4 separate regions of the Homo sapiens genome follow, and all the other regions are reported to be linked to region 1. Evidence: microRNA targets listed by miRTarBase, many of them from high-throughput screens and not tested one by one. Region 1 holds a microRNA gene; each other region holds the end of a gene's coding sequence.
What was found. Region 1 holds the annotated microRNA hsa-miR-4665-3p (CUCGGCCGCGGCGCGUAGCCCCCGCC, at 3,001-3,026, shown strand). A microRNA usually pairs through its seed, bases 2 to 8, with sites in the 3' UTR of a target mRNA and lowers its output. Matches are read on the target gene's strand: a 7mer-m8 pairs with bases 2 to 8, a 7mer-A1 pairs with bases 2 to 7 and ends in A, and an 8mer does both.

Region 2: miRTarBase lists RHBDD1 as a target of hsa-miR-4665-3p. Seed matches in the 3' UTR shown: 7mer-A1 at 1,412-1,418.
Region 3: miRTarBase lists PLD5 as a target of hsa-miR-4665-3p. Seed matches in the 3' UTR shown: 7mer-m8 at 611-617.
Region 4: the mRNA of PPP1R3G is a reported target of hsa-miR-4665-3p. Seed matches in the 3' UTR shown: 7mer-m8 at 1,668-1,674.

Annotation. Positions count from the first base shown.
Region 1 is chr9:6,004,871-6,012,758 of GRCh38, forward strand. It overlaps MIR4665 (microRNA 4665), which reads left to right and starts at 2,956; the gene lies at 2,956-3,034. BRD10 (bromodomain containing 10) reads right to left here and starts at 3,612. Exons shown (of 8, transcript NM_001017969.3): 1 at 2,325-3,612. The coding sequence starts at 2,917. RANBP6 (RAN binding protein 6) reads right to left here. Exons shown (of 1, transcript NM_012416.4): 1 at 6,155-7,888. The coding sequence ends at 7,420. RefSeq lists silencers at 2,080-2,139, 2,530-2,689, 2,880-3,109, 3,160-3,679 and enhancers at 2,280-2,509, 2,641-3,142, 3,143-3,642.
Region 2 is chr2:226,994,587-227,002,474 of GRCh38, forward strand. RHBDD1 (rhomboid domain containing 1) reads left to right here. Exons shown (of 9, transcript NM_001167608.3): 9 at 845-4,624. The coding sequence ends at 936. It also overlaps a transcript of COL4A4 not described here. Among named protein-coding and RNA genes, the nearest start is that of RHBDD1, 160 kb to the left of the region's middle. RefSeq lists enhancers at 492-1,691, 871-1,372.
Region 3 is chr1:242,083,926-242,091,813 of GRCh38, forward strand. It overlaps PLD5 (phospholipase D family member 5), which reads right to left. Exons shown (of 10, transcript NM_001372062.1): 10 at 1-6,185. The coding sequence ends at 5,929. Among named protein-coding and RNA genes, the nearest start is that of MAP1LC3C, 89 kb to the left of the region's middle.
Region 4 is chr6:5,085,610-5,093,497 of GRCh38, forward strand. It overlaps PPP1R3G (protein phosphatase 1 regulatory subunit 3G), which reads left to right. Exons shown (of 1, transcript NM_001145115.3): 1 at 1-3,878. The coding sequence ends at 953. All of the region lies in intron 3 of LYRM4-AS1 (LYRM4 antisense RNA 1), which reads left to right. It also overlaps a transcript of LYRM4 not described here. Among named protein-coding and RNA genes, the nearest start is that of PPP1R3G, 4.2 kb to the left of the region's middle. RefSeq lists silencers at 1-33, 174-223, 254-483 and an enhancer at 14-703.

The DNA of each region.
Region 1 (7,888 bases):
AAGAACTGATGTCCTAGTATCCACAAGTGTGGTCTCGCAAACCTGATGTGTTTGCATACATCAAATACAAAAAAGCGAGGGACTCCAACTTTAATTAACTATTTGAGGTCATACTACTTTTTGCTACTAAAATAGCAAGAATTTTACCTCTACTGGCCTAAGAATGTCAGAAATACATTATTTTTATAAACTACAATGTTGTAAGTTTAATTTCTAAATATGGATACTATTAGATCACATGGGAATATAAGTATTCTGAGCATTAACGACTGAGAATGATGATTCTAAGCATTTAGAAATTTACCTTTATGTAGTTTCTTAGTCTGCTCTTTTTTAAGACTAAGAAATGTTTATTATAGGCCGGGCGCGGTGGCTAGGGCCTGTAATCCCAGCACTTTGGGAGGCCGAGGCGGGCGGATCACCTGAGGTCAGGAGCTTGAGACCAGCCTGGCCAACATGGCGAAACCCCATCTCTACCAAAAATACGAAGATTAGCCGGGCGCGGTGACAACTAACCCCAGCTACTCGGGACGCTGAGGCACGAGTATCGCTTGAACCCGGGAGGCGGAGGTTGCAGTGAGCTGAGATCACGCCACTGGACTCCAGCCTGGGCTACAGAGGGAGACTCAGAGAAAATAAAATAAATAAATAAATGTTTATTACACACAGAGCTTTTGAAAACACCAGTAATTCAAACCCATATGCTATCTCTTAGCACTTTCATTCAGTCATTCTCTTGCCTCATTCTAAATCATTATTCCCACATCTGATAGATTAGATGAACTCTAAGGTTCTTCCAGGTCTAAAATCTTGTGACATCAATCAGGAGGATACTTCATAACTTCAAAATAATAACGTGAATGGATTGTTTTTTATGTGAGTCACAGCAATAATGCACTGTGGAGACAAGGGTAACAAACACACTACAGAAATACAAAATTACTAAAGTATTAAAAGTAATTTACAAAGCAAATATGTGAATAATTATTCTATTACTAAATAATCCTACTCTATGAAAGGATTCAAGAAGAGGTTCCTTAAAGAGAGCTCACTTAACGAAGACAGGCACTATGTTAACTGTTTTTGGTGAAAAAAATCACCGTTAGTCTTGAAAATGGCATATGGGAAGCCAATGACAAAGGTTACTTTTAAATTACAGTGACAAATCAAGAACCAAAAAATTAACACAATTTCTAGGAGCTATTCTGTAAGAGCACAAGTATAATGCCGTTTCAGATATGAAGTATACACTCATATTATTCAACGACTGCTACTACTTACATTAAAATGGCTAACACTTATACTTGGCTAACTATGGGAGCAGCACTGTTGATTTCACATTTATTAACTCATTAAATCCTCAAAGCAACTCTATGAGAGAAGTACTATTATTATCCCCGCTTGATAGATGAGGAAACTGAGGCCAAAAAGGTTAAGTGACTTGCTCAACTTAAATTCACTCTAATAGTAAACAGTCAAACTACTATTCCACTTCAACTACCAATACCAAAAACATTGAATTTTTCCACTCCCGAAAAATTTAAACTTTAGAAATTAACTTGGCTGACACAGACTATACAATTATTATAAAACAATACATTCATTTTAGTATCCTCCTCTTGTGTTAAATAATTGGATATATGGGTGGCGGATACCAAGAGCACAGTATCATCTGACTTGCCTATGATTTCTGGTAGAATAAACATAAATGTATAAACTTTAAAAAATGTGTGTTGATGCATTCCCTATTATTGCAAAAATTGGGTGTCCTCAGATGAAACGGAGAGAAAAGATCAGTAGTATGCAAAAGTAACCATTAACCATTTAGTAACACTCCATAAATCTTCGATGACCGACATGGGTAGTAAATGATAAAATTATTTTTTAATGGTTTAAGACACCTTTTTACATAAGCCAAAATTATTTTTCTAGAGATATTTCATCCTAAACGCTGTTTTAAATGTCATGCTAAAACTGTCTAAAAGTTGCAGGTCCAACTTCCATCCCACAAAAACTGTTCCTCTGCCTACACGTGCAATTCTTCCTACGGGACCCATTCCATTTTACATCTGCAAACTATACCCAGCTCTTCAGCGCTGCAGACTCGGGTTTCCTTCTCAGTCTACGCGCAAGCCGGGTTCGGCCCACACCCACCACACCCCTCCGGTCCCCGCCCAGCGCCGCTCCTCCTCCCGGGCTTCTCCAGCACCGACTCAGCACCTATCAGCGCCGCCCCCAGGCCCCTGGCCCAGCCCATCCTCGGGCACGTGTGAGTGTGTGTTTGTGTCAGTCTGTCAGTCCCACCGGGGACCGGGCTCGCTTACCGAGAGAGAAGCGCTAACTTCTGCTCCAGCATCATCTCCAGCTTCTGGCCCTGTTTGGAGATCCAGTGGTCCACTCCGTGCAGGCGGTAGCACGTCTCCAGCATCAACCTGAAGTCCGCCACGAACTCGGTGATGCCCCCGTACTGGCCGCTGGCGAACTTCTCTTCCATCTGCAGCAGACACATGCCCTGTCCGGGCTGCTGCGGGAAGGCGCGACCGCCCCGGCCCCCGCTGCGCGGCCCTTCCGCCACCTCCTCCTCCGCGGTGGCAACGCCCCCCAAGGGCTGCAGAAAGGGGGCGGTGAGGCCCCGGTGCTTCTCCTGCAGGAACTCGCCCAGGATGCGGTAGCCCTGCTGTAGCTCGTAGGTCAGCTCCTGCTCCTTGCAGCAACCGCCTCCGATCACCATCGCCTCCATCTCTTCCTCCTGATCGTCCGCGTCCTCCAGCGAGGAGGCACTCCTTCCGTGGGCCGGCCCTGAGGTCTGGGCCGCCGCTGCCACCTCCTCCTCGTCGTCCTCTCCTTCGGCCGCCGGTGGCGGCCGCTCTTCCTCCCCAGCCGGCTCCATCGCTCCCGGCGTCCCGGGCACACTCATGCCCCGGCAGGCCTAGGCTGGGCGGTGTGGAACAGCCGCTCGAGGTGCTGGGGGACGCGTGAGCGCGAGCCGCTTCCTCACGGCTCGGCCGCGGCGCGTAGCCCCCGCCACATCGGGCCTGGCTCTCCTCAGCCGCCGGCTCGGCTCGGTGCGCGCGGGGGTCTTGAGCTCACCGCCGGCGGGGCGGGGTTACATGGCGCGCGAGGAGGGGGGAGAGAAGAGGAGAGCCTAGGTGCCCTCCTCTCCCCTCCCCCCCGGCGGCGGCGCGCGCACGGCCCTCGCCGGCCTCACCCCTCCGCACCCCGCCCGCCTGCTCTTCACCGGCCAGGCCCTGCCGGGTCGCCGCGGCCTCGGCGCCCCACCCCCTCCCGGGCCAGCGGGGGGCTGGGAGGGGGCGAGGAGGAAGGGGGTTCTCCTCTCCCCTCCCCGGAGGGGGCCGCAGCGGCGGCTCCGGCTCCTCCTCTCCCTCACACCCCCTCCCGCCCCCCTCTACCTGCGGGGGACACGGGCAGAAGGAGGCGGTGCACGGACGGGGCCCGGCGACAACTGTCAGTTAGAAGCCCCGCTGGGCGGTGAGGGGGGAGAAAGGGGAGGGGCAGGGAGAGAAGGGGGAGGGCACTCAGCCCCCCGGCTGGGAAGAGCTGTGGAGAGAAGCAAAGAAAGAGGCCCTGTCGCCATCCCCGGTGCGCATGCGTAGTAGAACAATTCCCCCCTCCCCCCCCGCCACCATCGTGCCCCGCCCCGCTACGCAAAAGGAAGAGCTTCGGCTCAGCTACAGGCCCAGAAGCCTGCTAGGGTTGCGCGGACCAATGATGTAATCAATCGTAGGCCAATCGAACATGTTGATGGAGGGGGAAGCAAGGCGCCTGCGCAGCTTAATTCGCTACCGCCTGGGAAGGTGGCCAAAAGGCTTTTTTTAAAGCAAGTGCTTCAAGAGGAAACTTCTTTTGCAAGACCCGTGTTAGCCCCCCAAACTAAAATTAAAGTTGCTAGATAACCTTTGTTAATGGCAAATGAATAGTGAGAAAGCGCAAAATGTAAATCTTCTCTACTATAAAATTTACATTCTGTTCCCACCCTTTCTCCCTTGTGACTGCGGGTCTTCTATATATAACCAGAATTTTGAGAAGTTTAGAAAGAAAGTTTAAGGACTCGACCATACGTTCACATGCAGAAGAAAAGGAAGTGATTTTTAGAACCCCAGCTCTTAACATCAATTCATATTTTGGAACTAATTCCATGTTTTCAGTTACAAATTTCCACCCTCCCGATTCTTGAGATCTGTTAAGAATAAAGAGAATGGAACCTCATTTAAACAAATTCTTGGGACTGAAAACAGTCAAAATAGTTCATGTCTGAGTTGTACAGCATTAAACAGTTGTTTGCATGGGCTGATAATCTCACTACATTTTACAATTACTGTTTAATGACTAAAAAGTGGACTCATCATTCACATTGGTTTACATGTTACTTAAAATTAGTTGGGAGGTAGGAATTCATGGTTCCATAAAGCAAATACTACTATTTCCTCATGTTCTATTTGAAAGACGCACATATTATTTTTTCTAGGTACACAGAACCCTCGTTAAAACCTAGAATTACCTAAACACAAAAACAAAATTACAGAAATCATGCATTTTAAAAGTAAAATGTGTATAACTAAATGATTAGGATACTCTGACTCTTGCAATTGTTTACTTCTCATTAATGTGAACTTTAAAGCAGTGATAAAATTTTTTTTTAACCTCAAAGCTGTTTTTGTCCAGTAAGTTAAGTATCACTCTTAAGTAAAATAGTGAAGCGGGAACGCTCTGTTAGGGTATTCACACTGTCCTCCACACATACCTTTTATCTAGTATTCGAGGTCTCCTCTCATCAGACATTTGTAATATATAACGCATTTACAGGGTTCTCTCCCCTCAGAGAAGAGTCTGTGGACTCTGAAGAGTCCACAGAACCTCAGCTCACAGAAAGAAAAATGCAGGGATCAGTCTTACTTCAGCACCTGGCAACCAAAACGTGTGTCTGACTAGACATTCCTCCTTTCTTTCGACAAAGCCCAGGAATCTGAAGCCCAACGTACCCAAGCAAACATCCTCTACTCCTCTTTAGTCATCAGCTCTATTTCATGACTCTTGGACAATATTAGCTTACATTATTGAACCCTGTGCCACTAAGCACTTTATATTCATTGTCTCCTTTAATCTCACAACAAGCCTATCAGCTAGGTATTAACCTTATTTTTCAGATGAGGAAACTGCCTCTTAGTTTAAGAAAGTTGTTAAACAAAGTTAAAATCTAGGTCTGTCATACTTCAAAAACTCCAGGTGCCTAATTCCAAGTCATCTGGCAGAATTTCTAATTCCTCATACATAAAAGTGTAGGGAATTGCTAGAAATGTTGATAAAGGGTTTCTTAATTAAGATTATATAAAAGAGAAAGGTGTGGGTGAGTAGAAGGAACCTCAACTCTAGGTTATGAAGAGGTCAAGATGATAGCAACTTAACTATAATGAAAGTAGGATCGGGTCCTTGATCTTAAAAAAGAAACTCTATTACACAAGAAATATGGGCTGGGCACGGTGGCTGACACCTGTAATCCCTGCACTTTGGGAGGCTGAGGTGGACAGATCACCTGAGGTCAGGAGTTCTAGACCAGCCTGGCTAACATGGTGAAACCCCGTTTCTACTAAGAATACAAAAAATTAGCTGGGAGTGGTGGTGCGCACCTGTAATCCCAGCTACTCGGGAAGCTGAGGCAGAATTGCTTGAACCTGGGAGGCGGAGGTTGCAGTGAGCCGAGATCGTGCCATTGCACTCCAGCTTGGGCAACAAGAGCAAAACTACATCTCAAAACAAACAAACAAAACAAGAAATATGTTGGTTGTAGGTATGTAGGTAAATTAGAAAATATAGGTAAGTGAGGAGAAAATTTGCCACTTAATCCTACCACCTAGAGAAAACCTCTATTAATACTTTGAGGTGGGATTTTTCTATTCATTCTTCTATACTTTATTTATCTTAAATATACTAAAAATTGTGATCATACTATACATAATGTCCTTAATTTTCCTTTTTCCCCCATTAGTAATAATTACATGGAATGGACAGAATTGCATATCTAAAATCTCAACTTTATATTCTTGTCAACAATAGCCTAAATAGCCTGCCAATATGAATGAGTAGGGAATGGATTGGGAAAATTCTAAAGTAAAAGAAGTTCCAGACACAATAGAGGTACAAACAACAACAGCAATAACAGCTACAATTTATTGAGCACTTACTAGGTCTTAAATATTTGCTAAATACATACACAGTACTCACAATAGCCCCAGGAAATTATAGATGTATTTAAGTTTTGGATCAATGAGTAATCGTTAGCTGAGTAGAAAGCTCTTTTCTACCCTACAATAAGCTCGACATTAAAGACTGACATTCCAATTAATATAATTAACCCTGGACTTATAGAACTGTTTTCTCATAATAATGCACATCTACTGCTAAATGACTACTCTCAAAGTTGTTTTCTTTTTCATGTTCAAAGAAAATTACATTTCTTTCCTTTCACTTTTCCAATAGAATACTCTTCAGTTCTACTCTAGAATCTCTTAGGAAATTATTTGAAATAGAAATCAATTTAAGCCCTATAACTAGAGCTTTTTCTCTTGTTGAGCTGCTTTGCAGGGAGAAAATGGCATACATATACAAAATAATACTCTGCTGAAACACATAACACTGACTCCCAAGAATACTGCTTACTTACTCTTTGTCAAACACTGTTACATGCTACCAATATTAGATGTATCAGGACTCCCTTTTCAGTAACTATGGTTCTTGGAGTCCTGGATAACTTAAAAAAATAGAGACCTGTCTGGCTAAAGAAATTTAAAAGTTCTCTAACTCTCAACCAGACACCTTGGGAACTACAATATGGATATGTCCTACCCAGTTCCCAGGAGTACATTATGAAGAAGTTCATATACATCCCACATCCACTGCAGTATCTCAAAACTCTCCTAGTAACAGCATCCTCCCATCACCACAAATACCAAGAGTATTAATTAAAGAGGGACAAGCCTGCCACTATATCCTTCACTCACAATTCCAAAGATGTTTGTCCTGGAAATTCTATCTTATTTTTGTGAGCTCTTAGCATATTGTGATAGCATGACATCTTCACATCAAGTATACTGCTTGGCTAGCATCAATAATAGTTCAAACAAATAGCAACAATTTATATACTTTACATCAACTAGGGGAAAGGTGACAAACATTGTTTAAGACAGTTTGAAGCACAGGTTATCACCAAGGTCTGTGTTTGGAAGATAAAACATGCGAGATAAACAGAGGACTAACACTGATTAATTCTGGAGAAACATGGAGAAGAACTATAAACTGCTTAGCAGGGAGAAAACAGTTCTCTGATTTATAATAAAATCTATTCACAACACTTATTTGTAGTTACTTTTATAATAGATAATATTCAAGTTATATTAAAGTGCTTCAAGCAAAATTTAGCAACTCCTGTAAGGCTTCCTGCTGTTCATCATCAAGTTGTGATACACATTCCAACCATAAATCTTCAGAAGTCTGTACCTGACGCACGACATTAGCTAGGCGTTTGGCACAAGGATCCTCATAGTTAATAGTCTCATTAATTTTTCCTTCTGCAATTATACTGATTATTTTGGGAAGATTGGAATTATTTGGACCAATTACAACTGGGTGGTTACTTTCAATTAGGTCACAGAGAAAACTCAAAGTCTGAATAGCTTCCTCTTTATCTTCATGCAGTGGAAGCCATGATAACCAGTGTGGAAGAACTTCATCTACATTTACACAGTTAGGCTTAAACTTCAAAATCTTCCCTATTGCTGAGATACAGTTCTCTGTAGCAATGACATTTTTTTTGGTTTTGGAATTTGCACACTTAATAACTTTTACCAGAAGTGGAACAGCTTCTGAACATAAA
Region 2 (7,888 bases), not on the chromosome of region 1:
TAGAAGTAAACCTCTACTTACCCGTATCTATCAGTGATGTGTCTTCCTGGTTTCCTCATGGGGAATATTGAAGCTCTTTCATTACCTTTAGGTTGCTGGTTCCTTGAGATCAAGGACTATGTATTTTTCTCCCTTTATTACTACTCATGATGCCTGGGAGAATGCTTTCTTATGTAGTGATTGAAATTCTTGTATCATTACAAACTGTGTTTTTGGTAAGTTTGCATCCCTAAGAAACTCTTTTCAGTAACGATTTCCACAGTCCTTCATATGATCTTGAAATATGATGCCTACATCTTTGTTTACCTGCCCAGATATTGATCAGTATGGTAACTCTGCTCCAGTGGTTGCTTGTGTGTTTCAATCACGCATGATTCTTATTGGCCACATTGGGGCAGGAGGCGGCACATTAGAGGGAAGAAAAGGAGCACCCAAAGGCTGATCAGAAGAAGCCAAACCAGCCTAGTTGGTGGGGAAGTTAGTAAAGGTGGCAACAAGTTATATATGGGCATAAAAAAAAAAAGACAATAAGCCCTTGAGATACTGTGTAAGCCTAAATGATGCAAATTATGGAGCACGATGGAAGGAAAAATACAAGTGGGAAGATTATCAAGAAGCCTCAAAATGAGTCAAATCAGATTCATGGCTGAACCACTCTAAAAATATTTACTTGACGTTGAAATTTAGTACTGACAGCTGAAGTTGAAAAATCTTTGTTATATTTCTGTTTTGTGTTAAAATGAAGATGACACCCAAGCTATCACTTTGTTCCCTTGGAATCCTAGGGTACACATGCCTTGTCACGTCAGAATGATTGATTTTTCCTTTGGCTTTCTCACTACAGGAAATACCAGAAATAGCCCACCACCCTACGGGTTTCATCTCTCACCAGAAGAAATGAGGAGACAGCGGCTTCACAGATTCGATAGCCAGTGAGGTGGCATCTTGGGAAGACATGGCCTATTCGTGTAATTATTGCCCATTTGGCTCATTCCCCAAGCCCCTAATTCATTTTAATTCATTTTAAACAAAAGCAGAGTACACCGGTATTGCTCCAGATCGCTCACATCACCTGGGACAGTCCCATGGCCCCTATGAGTCAACTCACAGCTTGCGGGGAGTGGGCCTTCTCCTGGCCTTGTTCTTGCTCATAAACAGGTCACTTCCTCCATGAAGAGACCAGTTTCCACGCTCCCATCTCTCACTGCTGACTCAGCGATGCCTCTGCCTCGGTCTGCTTTTGAAGACTGTGACCTTCACCAGGAGGTTTTACTTACACCAGTCGGGAAGATTAGTCCCTCATTCTGCCTGGAGTGCCCCGTGTTTGACTTGGCAGCGGGTGTGGAGCCATCCCCGCGTCCTCCTGGCGCATTGCCACTGTGGCTGTCCAGGAACAGGATGTGGCTGCCTTGGCCGAATGTTGTCCTACTCTCCCCAACCCCGGCGCCTCAGCTCCTCAGCTCCTCGGGCCCCTGCGTCTGGCTGGTGTTTGCAGGGCTTTCGCTCTGCTCTGGTATTGCTCTGCCTTTATAGAAAGTCTTATTGAAGAAGTGTAAGAAAGACCTAAGGTGGGGAAGACTCCTACACACACCATTAGTATCAGTGACACCAGCAATGTAGGTTCCCAGCCCCTTCCCAGTGGCAGCTTGTGTGTCCAGGAGATAGGACATCATTTAACGCATCAGCAAAGTAGCAGCAGATGCCACATACAGAGTAGAGCGAAGGCATTTGGTGGATCGGTCACTAGAGATCTATCTTGCAGAAAGTATGTTTTTCCTCATAAAAGTGCCTCTTAATTGGCCATTGTACCAGCCACTTGTCCTAGCCAAATGTCCAAAACACGCCCTTGGGCCCCGCCACGTTACAATCCACAGATTGTCTGTCTGAGTCGTTTAAGGCATTTCCTGGTGCTTGTGTTCCATGAATAAAAGGACAAAGTCAGAAGATCACTGATGTCTTACTGTCAACAGAGATATTTTAAAAGAGAGAAGCAGGAAAAGATCTTCCTTTTTTGATCTACAACTTATATAGTTTTCTGATTATGCACATAATAGATATGCCTTCCAGATGCATAAGGCAAACATCTGGAAAGAAATATACCCAAATCTTAGCAGGGGTTATCTTTGGGAGTGGAGTACATGGGATTTTGCTTTCTTCATTTTTATAATTTTATATTACTGTCTTGGAAGATGTGTTTATGTGTGTGTGTTACTTTTACAATCAGGAAAACATATTTAATAACATATAGTCAAGAAAACAGACTTAAAAATAAATACTATGTGTCCATTGAGAAAATTCACAATATAAACAGAAATACAAATAAATACATACACAATTTTAAAGTCACCTGTAGCCCTACCCTTAGAGGTACCCAGGGTTAACATTTTGGTGGTATTGTCTTATCAATTTTTCCGTTGATACATTCAGCAAATTTGGAGCACATTGACCATGGAGTTTTGTGTCCAAATCCAATCTGAATTTACCTGGAAGAGGCCTTGACACCTGCATGGAAATGAGCTAAGAAAACCACTGGAGCCTTGGGAGCTCTTTGGCCTCCTGGCTGGCCCAGTAATATCTGAGCTCCTTTGGTTAATTTATAACTGATATAAAACTACATCTTCTTTATAATATAAATTGTACCTGTGAGTCTAGAAGCTTTAAATGTGTTTAAATTAAAATATTCAAGCTAAATGTTACTGCTCTCTCCCAAATTCTGTAAGTTTGACTCCCGTTACCCCAATTAGAAGTAACTTCTTTGTTTCATGCCACTTTTATAGCATTTGGTAATTCTGCTATAACACATCTTGCCCCTATTATTAACTGTGCACAGCTACACAAAGGTGTGCCTTCTACGTGGGAACATGGATTGTGAATGACTCTGTAATGAGGCCTGAGTCTTAGTTATCTTTCCACTCACTCCCCGTCTCCCCTTTCCAACCCCAAAGGCTCACGATAGGGGCTCACTAAATGTCAGTGTTTCACCAAAGTATTTTTTCCATTGTATTAAGAGTCCAGTCACTGTATATGGAAGTATTTTATTTTTTATTTTTTTATATCACTTGAGTCCACTAGTAGTACTTCCTTGCTCTGTTTGACTTGTCAGATACAAAGACACGGGATTAGATTTTGGGTGGTAAAATTGTGATACGCATGGCTGTTGATGGAGTGGAACATCTTAGTGATGTGAGAAAGGTCATTTTAGTTATAAATGTAAACCAATTACTTTAGCACAACAATAAAGATGTTCTGGAAATTATTATAATTATTTTAGTTAATGGACTTGCCTGTAACAAGTGCTTATGTTTGGAATGTCCATTTTATTTTATTTTCCTCTACAATAAGGAATCCCTAAAGTTATGCCAACAAACTGGAATTGGATTGAGAAAGACAAAAGCAAGTGAGCAAGTGTATTAGACTAATTATCTCTAGTAGGGAATAAGCACTTAGAGCTAATTTTTTAATTTGGTTTATTTATTAGTAGCTCCCTGATTGTCTGTTAAGCCCCTGGTTCCCACAGTTTGGTGTGGTCAGTCAACTTAAGCGACCTTTTAATGCAGAATCTTTACTTGGTTCTGAAGAGGAGGCAGTAGTTAAAATTGCTTCCTCTTAATGACTCTGAATGTATTGCCTGTGATTCCAAAGTTGTACATAATTGTTCAGACCTCCTCCATCCTTTTAAATTGCCTGCTGCAGTAAATAACTAGTTTGAGTAGAACTAGATCCTGTCTATCTATTTGGCACATGTTCTGCTGCCTGGGGAGTAAGCAAGCTAAAGGGATGAGAAAGACCACCTCCCCCTACCCTGGAAATTGCACTGCAAGGCAGGGCGAGAATGGGGTAGCTGGCAGACCTGGCCTCCTTGTTCCCAGTCTTAGTTTTTCTTGAGAGATTCAGTATTCAGTAAAGAATAGCATTCAATTAGTCAAAAAATATATATATAACTTCTTCCTTTCCCTTCCCATGAATCATTGCAGTCATTCCCTAAGTTTCTTCTCTTTTTTTTTCATGGCTGCTAGTATTTTATTTTAGAATCACAGACTCTCAGCTTAGAGAGTCACAGTATCTCAATTATTTGCTCTGTTCAATACTTAACAATACCTCCTCACTCAATTCTACATAACTCCAGCTTAGTCTTCCAAAATTCACTTTCATGATGCCACTCAGCATCTCAAATACCTTTCATTGGCTCTCTGCTGCCAAAGGATAAAGGTCAAAGTCATTAGCCTCAACAGTGGGCTTCAACCAGCCTTTGGACCTCAGCCCCATTTATCCATCACAGAGGCTGGTAACTAGTCTCACTGCTCAGGCTGTGAGTGTTCCTGATCTTGTGACATTCTGTGCTGTGCTTTTACATGGAACAGCTCTTTCCTCTCTCTTGGCCCATTCAGATCCTCCTCATCCAGCCCCCATCTGAATCCTGTAACAGACACAACCACATCTACACAGTTTCCACATACCACTTGGAATTGCTGGTTATGCTGCAATGAGAGAATGTCTTTGTCTTTAAATTGTAAGCTTCATGAGGGCAGGGACCATCTGTTTCTCTGTCTCTCCTCACAGTGCCTTGAGCAGTACGTTGTCTGGAATGTCAGAACCAATAAATACTTGTGGATTGAAACAAAAAGAGAAGCTCATTTATACTGTCACCAGTGGCGCACATAAACACTAGTGCCTGGTGCTTATTGATATCATTGTAGGTCTTTTTTTTTTCCCTTGAATCAATCACATCAAGGAAAGAATGATGGAAAGCATTTGCTGGTAGAAATAGAGACTTCAGGGCCTTTGTCAGCCTGAAGACATGTCCCACTGCATCGAATGCTGTGACCTGGTACACAAAGCTCAAGATTCCCACACGACCAAGAAGTGTCACCAAGGAGTCCCTGTGAGTAGTACCGAATCTTGCCATGTGCTTTTTACAGGTCTGCGTTGGATGTGTTTGTGCTAACATTTTTTCCTTCTGTGGTATTTAGGGGCAGAGAGAGAATGATCTTAACATCTCGATCAGATGATAGATGAATTGGCAGATTTAGATATGTGATTTATACTTTAGAAAAACTAAAATGTTGCTAATATAATAGAAATCATTAAATTTGGTCATAATAGGTATTGCTGCTTGGGAAGAGAGTAGTGTCATAAAATCAATGGCATCATGTGGCTTAAAGAGACTCTTGGAATCTGGGACACACACAAGCAAAACCCTAGAAACAACACTTCTGCTGTGTGGCTCTCTGGATGCGAAACTGGATCCCTTCTCTAAGTATTTTGAAAAACACTGCTCAGCCACCTCCAGTGAGGGTTTCTGCCAGGAAGTTGTGAAATTACTGTGTCTTTCTCTCACTATTTCCCCCTTAGATAACTTGTTTAGTGCCTGGATGAAAATTCTAAAAACAAAAATCAAACGAAAGTTTGTAACTTAAGAGATTCATGATATTTATTTGAGATTCTTTCAAGTTATTGCCTGCCTCTGACCTTGAGATACTATCTCTTTACAAGATCCTCTCCCTCAACAATTTAAATCTATCTTGCATATCCTTAGTAGCAGATAATTATTAATGGAATTGAACAAGGTCTTCAGACTCTCGTTATAGAGGAGCACCAAGGCCAACCTCTCTGCTCTTCAGGGTGTGCACCCAGGGCCCACAGCACCTGGAAGCTTCTACAGATTCAGACTCCTGCTCCCCAGACCAAATGATCAGAATCTACATTTTAACAGGTCCCCTGTGGTTTATAGGCACCAAAGTACTTCTCAAATTTCAGTGCGCACAAGTGCATTTTACACCATTTATTGCATGTAAAGCAGACTGACTGCTTGGGGACCAGAAGAACATCTTACTCCTCATTATACAATTTTCCCTACTTTTATCAAACATAAAAATGATTACAGGTTGAGAATTTCATCTGTGGCTGATAAAATTATAACCACTAAGTATATAATCACTGAGGATGCAAGCTACCCCCTAGAGATAATGTATGAAGGAATTGCCTTGCTGGCAAATGGGAGAACAAAAATGACTAAGTTGGCTGGTGCTGCAGTGACTGAGCATCAAGTAAGGGCCTTCAGATCCTCCTTTCTCCAGCTCAGAGCAGTTGCCCTAAATGACTGACCTTGGGTTTCTAGGGGCTCCAGAGGTAATATGGTTTGGCTGTGTCCCCACCCAAATCTCATCTTGAATTCCCACGTGTCATGGGAGGGGACTCGGTGGGAGGTCTCATGGAATCATGGGGGAACGTCTTTCCCATGCTGTTCTTGTGATAGTGAATATGTCTCACGAGATCTGATGGTTTTGAAAAGGGGAGCTTCCCTGCACAAGCTCTCTTCTCTTGTCAGCCACCATGTGAGACGTGCCTTTCACCTTCGCCATGATTGTGAGGCCTCCCCAGGCACGTGGAATTGTAAGTCCAATAAACCTCTTTCTTTTGTAAATTGCCCAGTCTCAGGTATGAAAATTTATCAGCAGCATGAAAATGGACTAATACAGGAGACACGGCTGGTTTTCATTTCTTTTCTTTTTTCTTTTTTTTTTTTGAGACAGAGTCTCGCTCTGTTGCCCAGGCTGGAGTGCAGTGGTACGATCTTAGCTCACTGCAAACTCCACCTCCCAGGTTGATGCCATTCTCCTGCCTCAGCCTCCCAAGTAGCTGGGACTACAGGTGCCCACCACCTGGCCCAGCTAATTTTTTGTATTTTTAGTAGAGATGGGGTTTCACATGTTAGCCAGGATGGTCTTGATCTCCTGACCTCATGATCCGCCCACCTTGGACATGGCTGGTTTTCAGTTGACCCTGAGATAAAGGCCTGTGGGATTCCCCCAAAATAGCTCTGTCCTCATGGGTTCCTCACCCCCTCCCTCCAGAACAGCTTGAGACAGTCTCCAAGCTGAGCTGGATGGGCTACCTTAGAACCCGTAAAACAAGGGGCTTTGCAGTGACAGGAGCAATCCAGGACACCTCTATGTGAGACCCTCTATTTTCTAACCAATTCACGAATGGGGAAAGCCGCTGGGAGGTAATGGAGTAAAGGATAAAAGTATTATCTTTAGAACAGACAGACGAGGGTTTGGATTCTACTAGATGGTGACTGTATGACCTTAAAGTAGTTATTCTCTCTAAAGCTCAGTTTCCTTGTCTGCAAAATAGGACAGCTGTAGGGTTGAGAGGAAGCATATATAGCAGAGCCAATACTGCTGCTGTGACATAGTAGACGGTCAGGGAATGTTTGTTAGTTGAGTACCCTTATTTCTCTATCAGGTAAAAGGTTGGCCCAAATACCAATGAAGTTCCTTCCTACTTAAAAGTAAGTCCAAGGCTGGGTGCAGTGGCTCATGCCTGTAATCCCAATGCTTTGGAAGGCTGAGGCAGGAGGATGATTTGAAGCCAAGAGTTTAAGACGAGCCTGGGCAGCAGAGCAGGACCCTGCTTCTATAAAAATTAAAAATTAACCAGGCACAGTAGCACATGCTTGTAGCCCACCTACTGGGGAGGGTGAGGCAGGAGGATCATTCGAGCCTGCGAGTTCAAGGCTCCAGTGAGCCATGATTGTACCACTGAACTCCAGCCTGGGCAACAGGCAAGACCCTGTCTCAAAAAAAAAAAAAAAAAAAAAAAGGCCACAAAGCAGTTATTGAATATCTGCACTCCACCTACCCCCATGTTGTTTGGCTATAAAGAGAAATGTAATCAATACCTAACTAACTCCTGACTTCAAGTCACAGTGGTTAAAAGTAACAATATCTTTGGTTTCATAAATCTCTTTGTAGTTAACTTTCACACCTTGAATCCTCCCAACAATGCTGTGAAGCAAATGGTCTTATTCTCACTCAACTAATGAGACAGCTGAGGCCAAGAGGGTGTAAGCCCCATGCCCACTGACCACTGCCCAAGCAGCTCC
Region 3 (7,888 bases), not on the chromosome of region 1:
GCTCAGAATGTCTCATCTGCTTTTCAGAATTTTCCGCCCATGGGGAATAGGAGAGTCCATAAGGGAATTAATAATTTTTTAATGTCTGAGCCAAAAGGAATGGGTTTGAGAGCCAGATATCCACTTCATAAAAAGAGATCTTTTCTCCTTACTAATTTATCTCTCATATAAAAATAAATCACAAATAATCTTCACCCTTACTATGATTTAATTGGACTCCTTGTACATGACTGTCATCGCACTGTTAGCCCATTTTTTTAAAAAAAAACACGAAATTGTAGCATTCAGAAACTGCCAATAAAATCAGAATACTATTGACTATTGCAGACTCAAAGTTCACTTTTAAGCCTTTGCTAACCTCTCCAATGATAGTTTTTTTTTTAAAAGTATGCCTCTCAGATTGATTCTCTTTATGAAAACAGCACCCACCTTATTACATGCTGTGCATATCCTTTCAGAGATAAGACTGCCTCAAATCCAAATTACTTTAGTAAATCAACAAAATTTTATCCTGTGTGGGTCTTGAGAAAGGAACCATATAAAGCACTCCAAATTGTTTGGCTCAAGTAGGTTTTCAGCTTCTCACCTTGAGTCTGGAGCCTCAGACCACTCGGCCGTCCTGACACTCTAGGCTGTCAACTTCTATGCCCAAATGGGAAGGGAATTTACACGTTGGGTGAGCTGGTTGAGATGGCTGTTAAAGTATGCTCTACAGCTCAATATGGGTTTGCTGAGCAGACACTAGGTTCTCTAGTGGGGTCTCTATGATTGTTTCTTTTTCTCACTAAAAATTAATGTACTCAGAATGAACATTTATTGGAAAGGTTTTTTTTTTTTTTTTTTTTTTTTTTTTAGAGAAAGAGATAGGTATAGTGTTTCAAAGATGCCTCCTTGTGTGAATATACAAAACAGTGGGCCCATTGGACCAGTCGCATCTACCTTCTTCATAATTTACCACAGTACAGCTTGGTTACTGATGAGAGACTGATTTGTTTCTGAGATCAGCTTGAGGAGAAAAAGAAATGCCTCATCTCACAGTATGAAAAAGCCATCTAATATTTACTTCTGAAAAAACTGAGCATCTGGTTATACGAAAGGTTTGATAATTTTAATGATTCCCCCAAATTCAACCCTTTATCAAACCCATTTATTTAGGGATCTTAAGGTTAATAATATAGATATGTCCAGGTACAAGTTTATCCTATTTACATAAAGGAACATTAAAAATTCAAGATACCTTTTGTAACAGAATTAGAAGTTTAGTAGTTGAACATAGCAAAAGAAAATGTGTAATAGTCTATTAAATGTAACTTTTTTTTTTCAAATTGCCAAAAGAAGCGTTAATGACCAGTGAAGTTTTAGAACCTTGTAAATACAAGACTGCTAATGGGTCAAAAATAAGAAAATTTCATTTTTACATCTTCAAGAAACTTCTGAGGAATACCCATTGAGTCACTGTATAAAGCAGCATCTTCATAATTCAGCCAAAGATGGGAATTCTCTCAAATGAGAAAGACAGGCTGCGAACTGGGGTTGATGTCAGGGCTATTCAAAAGCCTCCGTCCATTTAAGTCAATAAGGTGAAAATGGTAAGCAGCTATTTTGTTAACAACATATAAAAGGAAAATGAAAGATGCTAATCCAAATCAAATTGGAAAATTTTTTACCTTGGGCCAAATGGAAGTTATATTAATTTTGCCTTTAAAAGGTGTATAATAAAGCACACCAGTTCATTGGGAACAAGTACAGAAAGATAAAAGAATGAAACATTTGTCCACAATATATGGGGCTGTTCGTAAGGACTGAGTTTGAATAAACAATAACAAAGTATCTTTCATTATAGGAAGTGGCTGTTCTATGCAAGTAATGGCAGCGTTTTACATTCCTAAAGTTAAAAATAATGAAATGAATTTTGGACACAGAAACACACACCAGTGGTCATACGTGTGGAAAAAAAAAAAAGTTAATTGTAGGATAGAATTCCTGAGACAGATAGACCCTGGATCTGATCTTATCAAGAAATTCTTATGGTCTTTTCTCCCCCCTTGGAATTTAGTTCAATAAAAGTTCCTAAAAACAAACAGAATGAATCAGAGTCACTGAGTATAGCCACAGGCTGGTGGGAAATGAGCTTCTATCCATCCCAGGTTCATCGAGGCACTTAAACCATTAACTGCATTTCAAAAAAAATCCCCCACATTTTTCAAAGGGTGAGATCAACCAAAAATGTGATCAGACCCCTCTCACCAAGAACCATTCAGACATGAGACAAACAGTAGCACAGAGAGGGCCCGAATGGTGCCCAGAGTTACACAGGTGCAAAGTGTATCCGCAGACCTTTTGTTTCTTTGTCTGCTTTGACTTGTTAAAGACGCTGGTTTTCATTCTCTGTGCCACAGGACCTAGGAAGTCTGCAAAGCATCTCTTTACAGCATTCTTTTAAGTCAGTGGGGACATTTTCAGCATTCCTTGTTTCTATCAGGTTCAGGTACCTAAAGCTTGTTGTTTACAAAGCATGGATGTCATCTCACTCTTCCACTTCCTCTCCAATGGTTGGACAAGCAGAGATTCAATTATTTGATAGGCTAGTGGCCAGTGACAATGCAGTGGAGGCCCACAGTATTGATCTTTGATGGTGTGTGCAATGATTTGATTTGGCGGGGGGGTGGATAAAGGTGATGGGGCTTGGGAAGAGAACAGGCAGCATAAAAACTGTCACTGCTCAAATGGAAGTTTTCAACTGGTAGGCCCATCGGAAGGTCATTTGAATTCCACAGGAGAGAGAAGTGTTCTCATAGAATAAGTCATTGTTTAAAATCAACACTTGAGGATACATAAGGCACTAAGTTAGTGTTAGTGGTACTGAAATCCAAGATATAGTCTCTAATTGTGTTTGTTTTCCTTTTTGCCTCTTGGGAAATAAATCCAGGAATGTTAATGGGGAGTAGTCACCCTGCTCCTCATAATTTCTGGCATGGACATCCACCAGAGGGTGTCAAATTAACCTGTTTTTGTTTTGCATTCTTTCCCTCCTGGAAAGTAATTCCTGGGATATTTAGGGGTGGGGGGGAATGGAGGTTGATAGTTTGTTTAGCACAGAAACAAGTCTAAAAGAAAGGAAAGCCGTCTCTAGAGGGATAGCTAAAGCATCCAAATGAAAGAAAGTTCTGCAGAATGAAATGTTCTCTTGGGAGACATGAACCCATTTCTGACACTCTTGGTATGGGGGTCACTTTTCTGGCTGCCACAGAAGGACAGTGTGGCCCCATGGAGTCACCACCGCTGCCCAGACTCCCCTGATTAGGGGCTTGCTGTGTCTGGTAGGCATCTGCTGCTGCTGCTTGGCAGAAAAGCCTGGGATGCGGCTCCTGGTGATAGCATTTTGCCAGGCCTCAAAAGGAAATGGCAATGATGGTCATTCCGTAATGGATGACATTCTCTTCTCGTAGCACATACAGCAGATAGTGACAGTGAAGGGGCCCCATGACACCAAGCCTATGAGTGTCCCATGGCTGTGGATGAATACTTCAGGGGACAACTTGAGAACTAACAAATTTTAGTTTATTTGGTTTTTTTTTCTCCCTTTAGATGTCCTTTTTAAAACCAACTCAGGTCGCTTTTGTTTGTCTGAGTGTGAACTTGGTAGGTTTGTCTCCACTCCTATTCTGATTCCTTCTTTCCTTTCTGTATTTATTTATTTTTAGAGGCAGGATCTTGCTATGCTACCCAGGCTGGTCTCAAACTCTTGGCCTCAAGCAATCCTCCTGCCTTGGCCTTCCAAAGCGCTGGGATGACAGGCGTGAGCCACCGCACCCAGGCTGCTTTCTTTTTAAAATCATCACCAAAGCCACGTTTACTTTATTGGGATAACTGGCAGAGTTATAACTCCCAACTCAAATATGGATTGTGTATATGGTAAATATTTAGAGTCTTAGGGACTGGCTATTATTGATGAAGAATTTCAGTGAGAATCTCCCAATTAGTCATAAAACCATGCTACCCTTAAAAATACAGCTTCCTTCCAGCTCTCTTGATCAACTGGTTAAATATCTAGTGAAGCAATACTTGCAAATAACAAGAAGGGAAGTAATGTGATCACTCACTGGATAACCAACATAGCCATTCTATATTAAGTAAATCCATTGGATAAGATTCACAGGCTCCTCGATCACTCTTTTGGCATTTAGAAATCAAGTCTCCAGAAATGAAAAAGAATAACTGAGTGTTTCCTTGCTCTGAAAATACATGTATATTATGGTCCTGAAGAACCAGCTCTAGCACGACGTCTAGTTTTGTGTTGATGTTATTCATGCCAAAGCAGCCCAACGCAATGTTCTATTGAAATGTTGACAATCCAGATCTCCACCAGGGTTTCTGTGGGGCTGTGCTCTTTTCATCCACATTTGCAACAGGAAGCTGTGAATTTGTTTTCCTTTGTGGATTCTGGGGGAGGACCTGGTGTTGATTCCATCAAGATATGACAAAGTTTATTTCAAGAAAAAGATTATATATTATAATGCTTAGCATTTATATAGGTTCTTTTGATTTCAAAACAAGTTATAAATATTTCCTACCGTGACAACATCCTTGCGAGGTAGGTGAGTTATTACCGTCTACATTACCAAGAGAAGCCCGAGGCCAAGCAGTGAGGGGCTCCGCTTTGAGTCACAGAGTCGGGAACAACATTGGAACTGGACATCCCGGCCACCTGCTGTGGGCTCTGAAGAGGCCATGCCTCTCCCTAGTGTAGCAATGGTCTCCATTAATACAGGGGTATATATTGTATAGATATAAAACAACAACACACAATTACGTTATAGAACAATAATTCAATATTTCTGCTTCTTAGTAAAATATGTTAAGCACAGTATTTAAATTGCATTTCTCTGAAAAGCATTTGGTATATTAAATAGCAGAAGGTATATTAAATAGCTCTAGAAACGTTTGCTGGCATACTCTTAACAGCATAATGATTCTAAAGAAATTAAAATCCACTGACGCATAGAGATTTTTTCCTTTATAATACCATAAACTGAACAAAAATGTGAAAAACTACTTTATTCCCAAAATGCAGACTTGATAGCTTGCTGGATATTAGCAGGTGGCTACATAATTTTTCTGAGCTTGAGAGAAAGGATACATATTGCTGACTGTGATTTTTTTTAAATACCAATTCGGTAGGGGAAAAAAGGATTCAGTTGAAAGGTGAAAATGAAAGACTGCTATTTCCACTTAGTATCCATTCTGAAAAATTTGTATGTTTTCAAAAGATGTTATCATAGTTAGAAGTAATGTTGAGGTGAATACAGAAAATGCTATATAATAGGAACATTTTGTGAGAAGAGAAAATGATACCAAATAAAACTTATGGTATAAGAAGAAAATGAGCAAGACAGAAAAGGATATTTTTCAAGGGTGTTGAAGGCTGGCATGAGATGTAAGCTATTCATGCTTAGCTGACTGTGTAGGTCTTGGAGACGATTTACAAGAATAAACACTTGGTTTTATCAGTCTCTTCTCCAAGGCAAAATCCTCACCTTCCTCTCTAAATCAACAGTTCTCAGAATGGTGTTAAAGAGCCCACCTCATGCTAAGCTTCCTAACAACTGACCGGGTAGGTCAGCAGAAAAAGTTCTAAAACTAGAAAGGAGCAGGAATGAAAGTCTTAAAATTTGTATGCAAACGTAAAAACTAACTTCTACGCCAGAATGACATTCTCTGTCAGAGGTAACAAATACAAAAGTCTTAATTTTAGTGTACACGACGCTAAGATATTGTTAGATAGGTATTATGTGTTGTTCAGAGAATATTTTTTATAAGTGTGCTTTTTCCCTAAAAAAAGAGACATATTAAAGTGTTTTTTCTCTCCTCAAGTCCTTTATGTATAAATATGAAATACAGAGCTGTCCTGTCAGTTTCTTCATCATGTTATACGTTCCGGGGATCCTTTCCGCCTGTGTCGTCTGTGGCAGTTTTGTTGGAGAGGGGTTTGAGTTTGAACAGGCTTGAGCAGTTCGGCTGTTTGGTTGGCTGTAAGGTTTTGGCATACGGTGAATACCAGTCCCTTTCAAACACATCTTTAAGTTGCTTAATGATGCTTCTGTTGTTCCTCACATCTGCCTGGTTGATAACAAGGCCCGTGCCAGCATTCTGAGTGAAATCATTCCCTACCCAATCAAAATTTCCTGCAAACAAACAAAGAAATAATGTTGAGGAGTTAGAGTCCACTGGGAACATACCCAATATAATGAAATTCAGAGTGGATTCTATTAAAAATCATCAACATCCAGGAATAACAACGGAGAGGCTGAATTGTGTTGACAGCTCCGAAAAAAAAATCCAAGAAGCCTTACATATGGCATATTAATATTTGCATATTATTTTGGCATTTTCTTCAGCTTTGCTCCGGTGGAAACTCAAAACAAGGAATCTGCTGTTCTTTCTTGTAAATGTTATTTCTTATTGACATTCACAAGCCACACTAAATACAGCAACATTTAAAATATATAGGGATTCATTTAAAAATCCTGTGAGTAATTACTACCTTCTCAAAGAGACAACATCTAATCCATGTGAACAAATGAGGGATTCTAATTATAAGTCCCTGAAGCTTTCACATCAAAGAAAACGCTGAAGCCAGAGGAGACTCAGTTCCTAACAAACACTCGATTGGACTAGAAATCATTTCCCAGACCCAGGATCCGGCCCCTTGGCCCCAGGAAGTGGGGCAGGTGCTATGAGAACAGCCTCTCAAGTATGACTGCCCGTGTTATGTGGTGTATTCGTGTTTTTAGGGCTGCCATAGCAAAGTTCCACAAATTGGGTGGCTGAAACTACAGAAATGTATTGTCTCACGGTTCTGGAGACAAAATCCAGGTGTTGGGAGGGTTGATTCCTTCTGAGAACTGTGGGGAGGGATCTGTTCCAGACCTTTATCCGTGGCTTGTAGATGGACATTTTCTATTTTCTTTTTATTTATGCTTTTTGGTTCCTTTTTTTAATTTTTAAATAGAGATGGGGTCTTGCTGTGTTGCTCAGGCTGGTCTTGAACTCCTGGGTTCAAGCGATCCCCCCACCTCAGCCTCCCAATATGCTAGGATTACAGGCACGAGCCACTGTGCCCGACATCTCTATGACATTTTCTGTCTCTTCATATTGTCTTCCCTCTATGCATGTCTCTGTCCAAATTTCCCCCCTTTTACAAGGACACCGGTCATATTAGATTAGGGGCCACACTAATGATCTCATTTTAACTTGACGATTTCTCTAAAGATCCTGTCTCTCAATAGAGTTACATTCTGAGGTACTGGGGGTTAGGACTTCAACATATGAATTTTGGAGGGACACGATTCAGCTCATGCAAAGGAGTAAGCCTGGGATCTGCCCTAGAAGAGACTAATCATGTGTATGCCACTCCCATGTAGTCCATCTTCAAGGTGTGGGGGAAGCAGCAGCCTTGGAGAGCTAGAGTAATGCCATTTTCAGTTCAGCTCCATCTTGAGACTAACAAGGCATGTTCCTTGCCAGTCACAACCATGGTCATAGATGTTTACAGTTGAGAAAACAGCCTAAAGATACCCCAAAGGATACAGTCCTACAGCAGTGGAAAGTCCAGATGTCCCAATACCCATAACAGTATGTGCTTTCGGGATAGCTATAGTTATGCTTCGATGTACTTTCACACTAGAATGTCATTACACCAAGAATGTTTTCTTTAAATCGATAGAATAATAAATTTTGTCATGCTGTCAGCTCACTCACACATAGACACAGCTTAGCTTAGCTTTTACATAGATAAGACTCCTATATAAGAAAAACACACCACATCCCTCCACTTGCTTTCTGTGGACGCCCTACTCTGTAGCTGAGTAGCTTTATTCTTCTTTTT
Region 4 (7,888 bases), not on the chromosome of region 1:
GTGGCGCTTCGGAGACCCCGAGTCCTGACGCTCAGCTAGGGGATAGGCCCCTGTCCCCGAAGGAAGAGGCCGCCCCCCAGGAGCAGGAGGAGCTGCTGGAATGCCGCCGCCGCTGCCGCGCGCGCTCCTTTTCCTTGCCCGCCGACCCCATCTTGCAGGCGGCCAAGTTCCTGCAGCAGCAGCAGCAACAGGCGGTGGCACTGGGCGGCGAGGGGGCGGAGGACGCACAGCTCGGCCCGGGCGGCTGCTGCGCCAAGTGCAAGAAGCGGGTGCAGTTCGCGGACACGCTGGGGCTAAGCCTGGCCAGCGTGAAGCACTTCAGCGAGGCGGAGGAGCCGCAGGTGCCGCCCGCCGTGCTCTCGCGCCTCCGAAGCTTCCCTATGCGTGCCGAGGACCTGGAGCAGCTCGGGGGGCTGCTGGCCGCGGCGGCAGTGGCCGCGCCCCTTTCAGCGCCGCCTTCCCGGCTCCGGCCGCTCTTCCAGCTCCCGGGGCCGAGCGCCGCGGCCGAGCGTCTGCAGCGGCAGCGCGTGTGCCTGGAGCGCGTGCAGTGCTCGACGGCCTCGGGCGCTGAGGTGAAGGGCTCCGGCCGGGTGCTCAGCTGCCCTGGGCCCAGGGCCGTGACCGTGCGCTACACCTTTACCGAGTGGCGCTCCTTCCTGGACGTGCCGGCTGAGCTGCAGCCCGAGCCGCTGGAGCCACAGCAGCCAGAGGCACCGTCTGGGGCCTCCGAGCCAGGGTCCGGGGATGCCAAGAAAGAGCCAGGCGCCGAGTGCTTCCACTTCTCGCTGTGCCTGCCCCCGGGCCTGCAGCCTGAGGACGAAGAGGACGCCGACGAGCGCGGCGTCGCGGTCCACTTCGCTGTCTGCTACCGCTGCGCGCAGGGCGAGTACTGGGACAACAACGCGGGCGCCAACTACACGCTGCGCTACGCGCGCCCTGCGGACGCGCTCTGAGCCTGGAGAGTTTCGAAGAGCCGTGGGGCGGGGTTGATTAGCACGTGGAGCTCGGGCTGCCGCCTCAAGGAACTTGCTGGGACGCTTTGCTGAGCGTGGCGAGTCTGGCGTGAGGGGCGCGTGGAGGGAAAGGAGGGAGACTTTGAACCGTCGACTCGCACCCCCGCAGACAAGTGAGCGAGCTTAGAGAGCCCGGGCAATGCTCCGAAAGCCTCTGACCTCAGTCTTCTCGTCCGTTTGACCTTCCTACAAGGCCTCTAGAATTCCCAGCCTGCGTCAGAATAGGAAGAAACTTCCAAGGCCCGGAGCAGCTGCCTCCAAGAAAAAGGCTCCCAACTCCCGGGCATGGTTCTAAGGCCTTGGGATTGGTTTTTAACTCTAAATATCATATTGTAGCCCTTGCAGTTTGCTGGAGACCCCTAGGGAAAGAACAAAGCGTCCTGCCACGGTGCACCAGAGGAAGGTGCCACGGACTGTGGGTGCACGCGTGGGACCTTTACACCCCAACCTATTTCTCAGAGAAAACCCTTCGGGGCTGGGCCAGGCCACCCTTTTCTTTTGACTGAGATGTGGGTAATGTGTGCCCAGACTTGACGTTGTTTATTGTGCGACATTGTGTACAAATGTCCTTTATAAAAGTAAAGGCCACTCGCACCCCCTTTTACGCTGTACTCTGAATTTTGGCTTTCGTGAGTTTGGGGAGGCATTGGCAGTCGGCCGATCTTTGTCAGCTGATGATGTGCGCACTTTAACAATCCTTAAACAACAGCCTACAAATTCCTCCCCTTCGTTCCTTCCTCTCTACTGCGAAAGGGCCCAAACTTCCCATGTGCTTTAAAATGTTCTGTAGAAAGTGTTCCGTCCCCCTCCGAATTAAGACGTTTGGTGAATTGAAATGCCAGTCCTCGGGCAGGCCCTGGCTGTGATCTGCGAGAGCCGGGCACGCACGCCCCGGCGCCCTTTGTGTAGGCAGAGCACACTGTTAGGAGACTTGCCGGGCCATTAGCAGTCAGAGAAGCTGGGCCCTTTTAGTCGCTGGACTGCCAGCGCAGGGGATGGGGGATGGGAAAGTGGCTTTCTGTTCCTCTCAGAGCCACAGTGGGGAGTGGTGACTTGATGGAAGAGGAGGCATGCCCAGCGAGTCAGTGCTGCGCAGACGCAGATGGCCACCTCTGCAGGCCCGTTGGGTGGGGTATGGACGGCCTTGGTCGCTGTGCTGGCTGTGGATGCCAGGATGATGTGGCCCTCTGTGCATGGGTGGGCAGGAGGGCATCCCGAGTAAGGTCTGTCGCCCCTTGACTCTGCCTCAGTGATTTCCCTTTTTTTAAGTCTTCCCATTTTCCAGCACATGGCGAGTACAGTCAGTCGTTTTAGGGATGGTAGTCTCTAAGGAGGGACAGTTTCACTGTTGCTTGATAGAACAGGGCTGGGCATACGTACATTTGGCCCATGGGCCAAATTTGGCACACAGCTTATTCTTGTAGGGCCTGTGACCTAAGAATAGTTTTTACATTTTTATTTTTAATTTAATTTTCTTATTATTATTTTTCGAGACGGAGTTTCACTCTTGTCGCCCAGGCTGGAGTGCAATGTGCGATCTTGGCTCATTGCAACCTCCGCCTCCCAGGTTCAAGCGATTCTCCTGCCTCAGCCTCCAGAGTAGTTGGGAGTACAGGCATCTGCCACCACACCTGGCTAATTTTTGTATTTTTGGTAGAGACAGGGTTTCACCATGTTGGCCAGGCTAGTCTTGAACTCCTGACCTCAGGTGATCCACCCGCCTTGGCCTCCCAAAGTGCTAGGATTATAGGCGTGAGCCACCTCACCTGGCCTTACATTTTTAAATTGTTGAAAAAAATTCAAAAGAAAGTACTATTTGGTGGCACGTGAGAATTATATAAAATATATATTTCAGTGTTCACAAATCAGGTTTTACTGGAACACAGCCGTGCACACTCATTTCTGTCTTCTCTGTGCTGCTTCCATGCTACCGCAGCAGAGTGGAGTAGACACAGCAGAGACCAGATGGCAAAGTGTAAAATATTTACTATCTGGCCCTTTTACAAAAGGCTGGCCAACCCCTGCTCTAGGGAAGTAGTGTTTTTTAAACACAATATGCTGACAATTATAGTTAATAAAGCATTTAGACTTTAGTGAGCTTTTGCCACTTGAAATAAACCCCCTTTGGGTAAAGGTAAAGCTTTATATGACTCTCAGTAATCTTGTTTAGAATAAACACGAAAATGTGAAAAGTGCGGTTATCATTGTGTCAGGCAGGGGAATCTACCTGTTGCCTTCTTTCACCTAAAAAAATAGTAACACATCAGTGCAACTGAAACATAGCACCCGTTTGAATTGGCTTCAAACTACAAAGCTGCCAGATATTTCTCTGTGCTTCAAAATGTGGCATCTTACACAATGGAAGTATTTAGTTTGAACTTTGGGTTGGAGATATCCCTTTGACTATGGCAGTGTTTCCCAAAGTAAACTGATCATAGGAAAAAAATAATTTATTGACAGCAAGCCATCAGGAGTTAACATATTACAATTTAGACTTTTAAAAATGGTCAATGGTCATATCAATGAACTAATGAATACTTAATTCATATATGCTTATAAAAACTTTGACGAAAAATAAATGATAAAATGAAACAATTTTTCTGTTACTAAATATAAAAGCTATGAAGCCTTCTGATGCATCATCAGGTAATCTTGGTCTGATATACCATTTCTTAAAAGTACATTATTGCATAACCATATTTTTCCGATATATTTATAAATACATTAATTTTTAAGATATTGACAGTATACATATGCTATAACATTGTTTGAAAATGCTTGTTTGTGGGGCAATAAAGCAACATTTTGAATTGTTTTGAATTACTTAAAATTAAATGAGGAGCCCAATATAATGATTCAAACAGAGATCTTTGTGTCTAGTATCCTTTAAAATGGTAACCCATTAAATCTGGACTCAAACAAGAGAAATAGATTTTTAGTGGTATGTACAGAAGACTTTCTATTCTGTCATAACACCATTACTGATTTTCAAAACTATATTTTAAAGTTCAAATGATTCATTTTAAAAGAAACTATTTCATAATATAATGAGCATCCAGTATGGCTGCTAGGAAAGGAAACCTAGTTTTGCTCTCCTCCCAGTCTCAGAGACTAGTGCGTCAAATGTTCATAATTTGGTAAAATATTTTAAACAGCCCAGTATTTCACCAATGTGTGTAGCCTTTCCAAAGCATTAGCACTGGCAATCTTTTGAATGTCCATTTTGTTTTATAAAAGTGCCAACTTCTCATTGTAGACTAATAGCAAACATTATGCAGTGAAATGTAAAGGTAATAAAAATAGGTTTTCTTTGTTTTTGAAAAGTTATTTCAAAGGAAAGGGCAATACGACCAGAGTGAGGAAGTATTTAAGAGTGTATTTCCTGAAAGGAAGACACACACACACACACACACACACACCACACACACACCACAAACAAAATCCCTGCAATGCAGTCAGTGCTTTTTTGCAGCAATATTTGCTTCAACTTGAGTAAGTGAAGGTCATTCTCCTTAAAAATGCAATAACTTTAACACGTTACCTAGCACTAGTGATAAAAACTAAGTTCTCAGCTGAGTTAATGACCCTGTCCTCCACCAGAGAGGGAGTCTAGTTTCTTCCTTATTGGCAAGTGTGTCCATGGATCACTGGGTGAGGGAATGTTGGATGAAATGTGTCCCTATCTAGAGCTTCAGAAACATGGGCTGGGAATGTGGCAGTTTGTATGAAACAATATTCTCCCCGGGAAGCTTCCGGTTTATGAAGCAAGGTGGTCAGCCAGTTCCAAGACTTAACTAGGGAGGGTAGGATCCTGCTCCAGGAAGTGTACGGTGGACTCTGGAAACCCACTGAGCTCTGGAGACACTGGAAGTCTCTGTCCAGGGCAGCAAGAGCCACGGCTCAGGCAGCCTTTCAGGAGCAACTGGGAATGGGGGTAGTTGCTGTTATCCACAAACCTCAGCTGTAGGGGCAGGGGATTTTCTCCTCTCAGGTGTGCGGTGGGCTTTCCATTCTGACCGTCCCCTCATGCAGTGTCCTTTCTTCTGCCTTGACCGAGGGGTGAGGGCTTCCCTGGAATGCTGTGGCTCTTGAGCCTGTCCACAAGGAGGCCGCCCACAGCCTTCCTGCTCAGTTCATTTTAGGAGCATTAGTGTCGGATTCTTCATACGTCATTTCACAGGTTTCCATATTTCAGCTTTCTAGCACAACGGTTTCTATTTTAGTAGGCTAAGATCTTTCATTCCCCTACTCAGTTCTGTGTTTCTTTGGAGCACTGTGGCTTGGAGCCTTGTGGGGCAGAGTGATTGGTGCCATGTGTTCTTTATCAGGAGTGTAAGGAACAGCCCTAGAGAGGAAATGTGATTTCTTTTTTTTTATTAATGGCATCATGGAACTGAATCAAACTTGCATTTTTGGTTCACACAATAGGACCCAGGTTTGTAGATTAAAAGAATATGCTGTGACTTGTGGAAACTCAACTGGCAACACGGATTATTTGCAGTCCAGCGTTTGTCCAGCCAGTCCCCAAGATGCCAGGACCCGATGGACTCCTGGAATCAGGGATGTGCTGCCTGAAGTCACTAAGGCAAGGGGCTGGGAACAGCTGACAATCCGGGCTCATTGCAGTGTCCCGGCCTCCCCTCCTACAGAGTGGTCCTGGCTGTCTTGAGTGTAAGTGGGCAGGTGCTTGGAAACCTGGGACACACTGTTTTTTGCTTCCAGACCACAAAATAGACACCTTCCACCTTGTGAACTGTTGTGTTCCTCTTTGGACTCCCTTTAGCTGATCAGGGAGGTGACATCAGAACGCAGCGGTCACTGATCCTTAAATCCTTCAAGGTCTGATTGTCAGAGTGCTAAATACCGTAACTTCAGGCGCATTCAGATTTCAACTCTTTTGAATCTTTTTGGTAGACATTGCATTTGCTTTTTGTGAAGTTTAGTTCTTTGACTTTGGTTAACTGTGAACAGGAAACTTTTGGAAAGAACAGAGGCACATGTCAGCTAAATGAAGATGTTTGAGATGGCAAAGATCAAGGGCTTCCTTTTAAGATTTGCTGGTGAGATTTTCCTACTGAGTTGGTACTAGAGGAATCAAATAGGTGAGATCAATGGAGTAGTAAAAGGCTATTTAAGTAAGTCATGAGTTCAGAGCAAGTTCAACCAGAAACTCCACATTTATACAAACCACGCATATACATATGCAAACTTTTCTGGTAAGGCAAAGCCATTTTCAAGTGACTTATAAGACATTTAAGGAAATTGGGCTGGTATAATTTCTCCGATTGTAGTTACTCCTCCCATTCCCATCGTTGTCACTGGTCAAGTCCTGTTCTTTGAAACTTGTTACCTGAGGTCATTTCCCACAGAGTCGACAGCATACTAACATAGCTGGAAATAGGAAATTCAGTCTGAAAATCTGGATGAATTAGGAGTGGGGCAGACAGATTTCATGAACTAAGCTTGAAACATTTCATCTTTAAGTTGAAAATTTCATGAACACATCCTGCAGATGGTTTTTCTACAAGTAGCTACTCTTGGGTCAGGTTGAGGAAGCGTCCACTCTGGCAGATGAGAATTTTATGTTCCTGGGAAACTAACAGCCCTTAAAGGGATTGCCTTGCTGTGGTCTGAGGATGTGCAGTTTCAGCTCCTCCCTTGACAGCTTTGGGTAAAGAACCCTTGTCATCAGGAGGTTGTTCTGGTGCAGGTGAGGCAGCATCTTTTTAAACCCTTAGTAGGTGAAAGAGCTCACTATTTCCCAGAAACTTTTTCTTCCCATACGTTTTACATTATTTTTAAAAAATGGCCGGGTGTGGTGGCTCACGCCTGTAATCCCAGCACTTTCGGAGGCTGAGGCAGGCGGATCATGAGGTCAGGAGTTCGAGAACAGCTTGGCCAATATGGTGAAACCCTTTCTCTACTAAAAATATGAAAAAAAAAAAATTAGCTAGGCGTGGTGGTGCACACCTGTAGTCCCAGCTACCAGGGAGGCTGAGGCAGAACAATCCCTTGAACCCGGGAAGCAGAGGTTGCAGTGAGCCGAGATCGTGCCACTGCGCTCTGGCCTGGGCGACAGACAGAGACTCCGTCTCAAAAAAAAATTCAGTCAGTTTATGTTCAGAACCACTGTAAGTAGGTTGAGGCATTCTGTTTGTGTTCCTTTCAGTCTGGTGAAGCAGCAGTCGTGTTTATGTGCACAGACTTCAGGCATTTTTTTAAATTGCATTTTTCAGCCAGCAAACCCAGAGCCCCTGTGACGCTCGGATCACCATTAGGTGCAGAACCTAAGATTAGTAAGTTTCTATTTGCTGCATTAGGATTGTAAAAGCATAGATCCAACTGGGTGTGAAGGTCCCCACGATATCTGTGAATATACTTGGGTATTAAATTGCAGACAAGTGTTAACAATGAAACACACAATATGTTCTTTGGAAATAAAATAACTTAGTACACATTTAGAAAGGTCTGTGAGTCCCCCACCCGCAACCCCTCCCAAAAAACCCCACCTGAACTAGATGTTGCTTTTGTAACCAGAATCCTGAGTTATTTTGGATTGTGCTGTTTACCAAAGTAATTAAAGATGAATTTATGTATTGGTGCAATGAGCCCTGGAAGACTGCTTTTTGTTTGTTTTTTTGTTTTTTGTTTTCTGGCAGAGAAAATGATGCCTTTGAGATGTATTGTAAAAATATTAAGTTCTGAGGCCAGGGGCTGTCCCTGCCTGGCATGACCCATCACTATCTAGAGCATGTGACAGTGGAGGGGGATGGAACGCCTGCCTTGGGGCTCCAAGCCCAGGCTGTGGCTTGTCCTCCCTGGCCTCTGCTGACTCTGGCCTGGGCAGAAGTGCCCGGATGGCTGCTTCAAAGTCA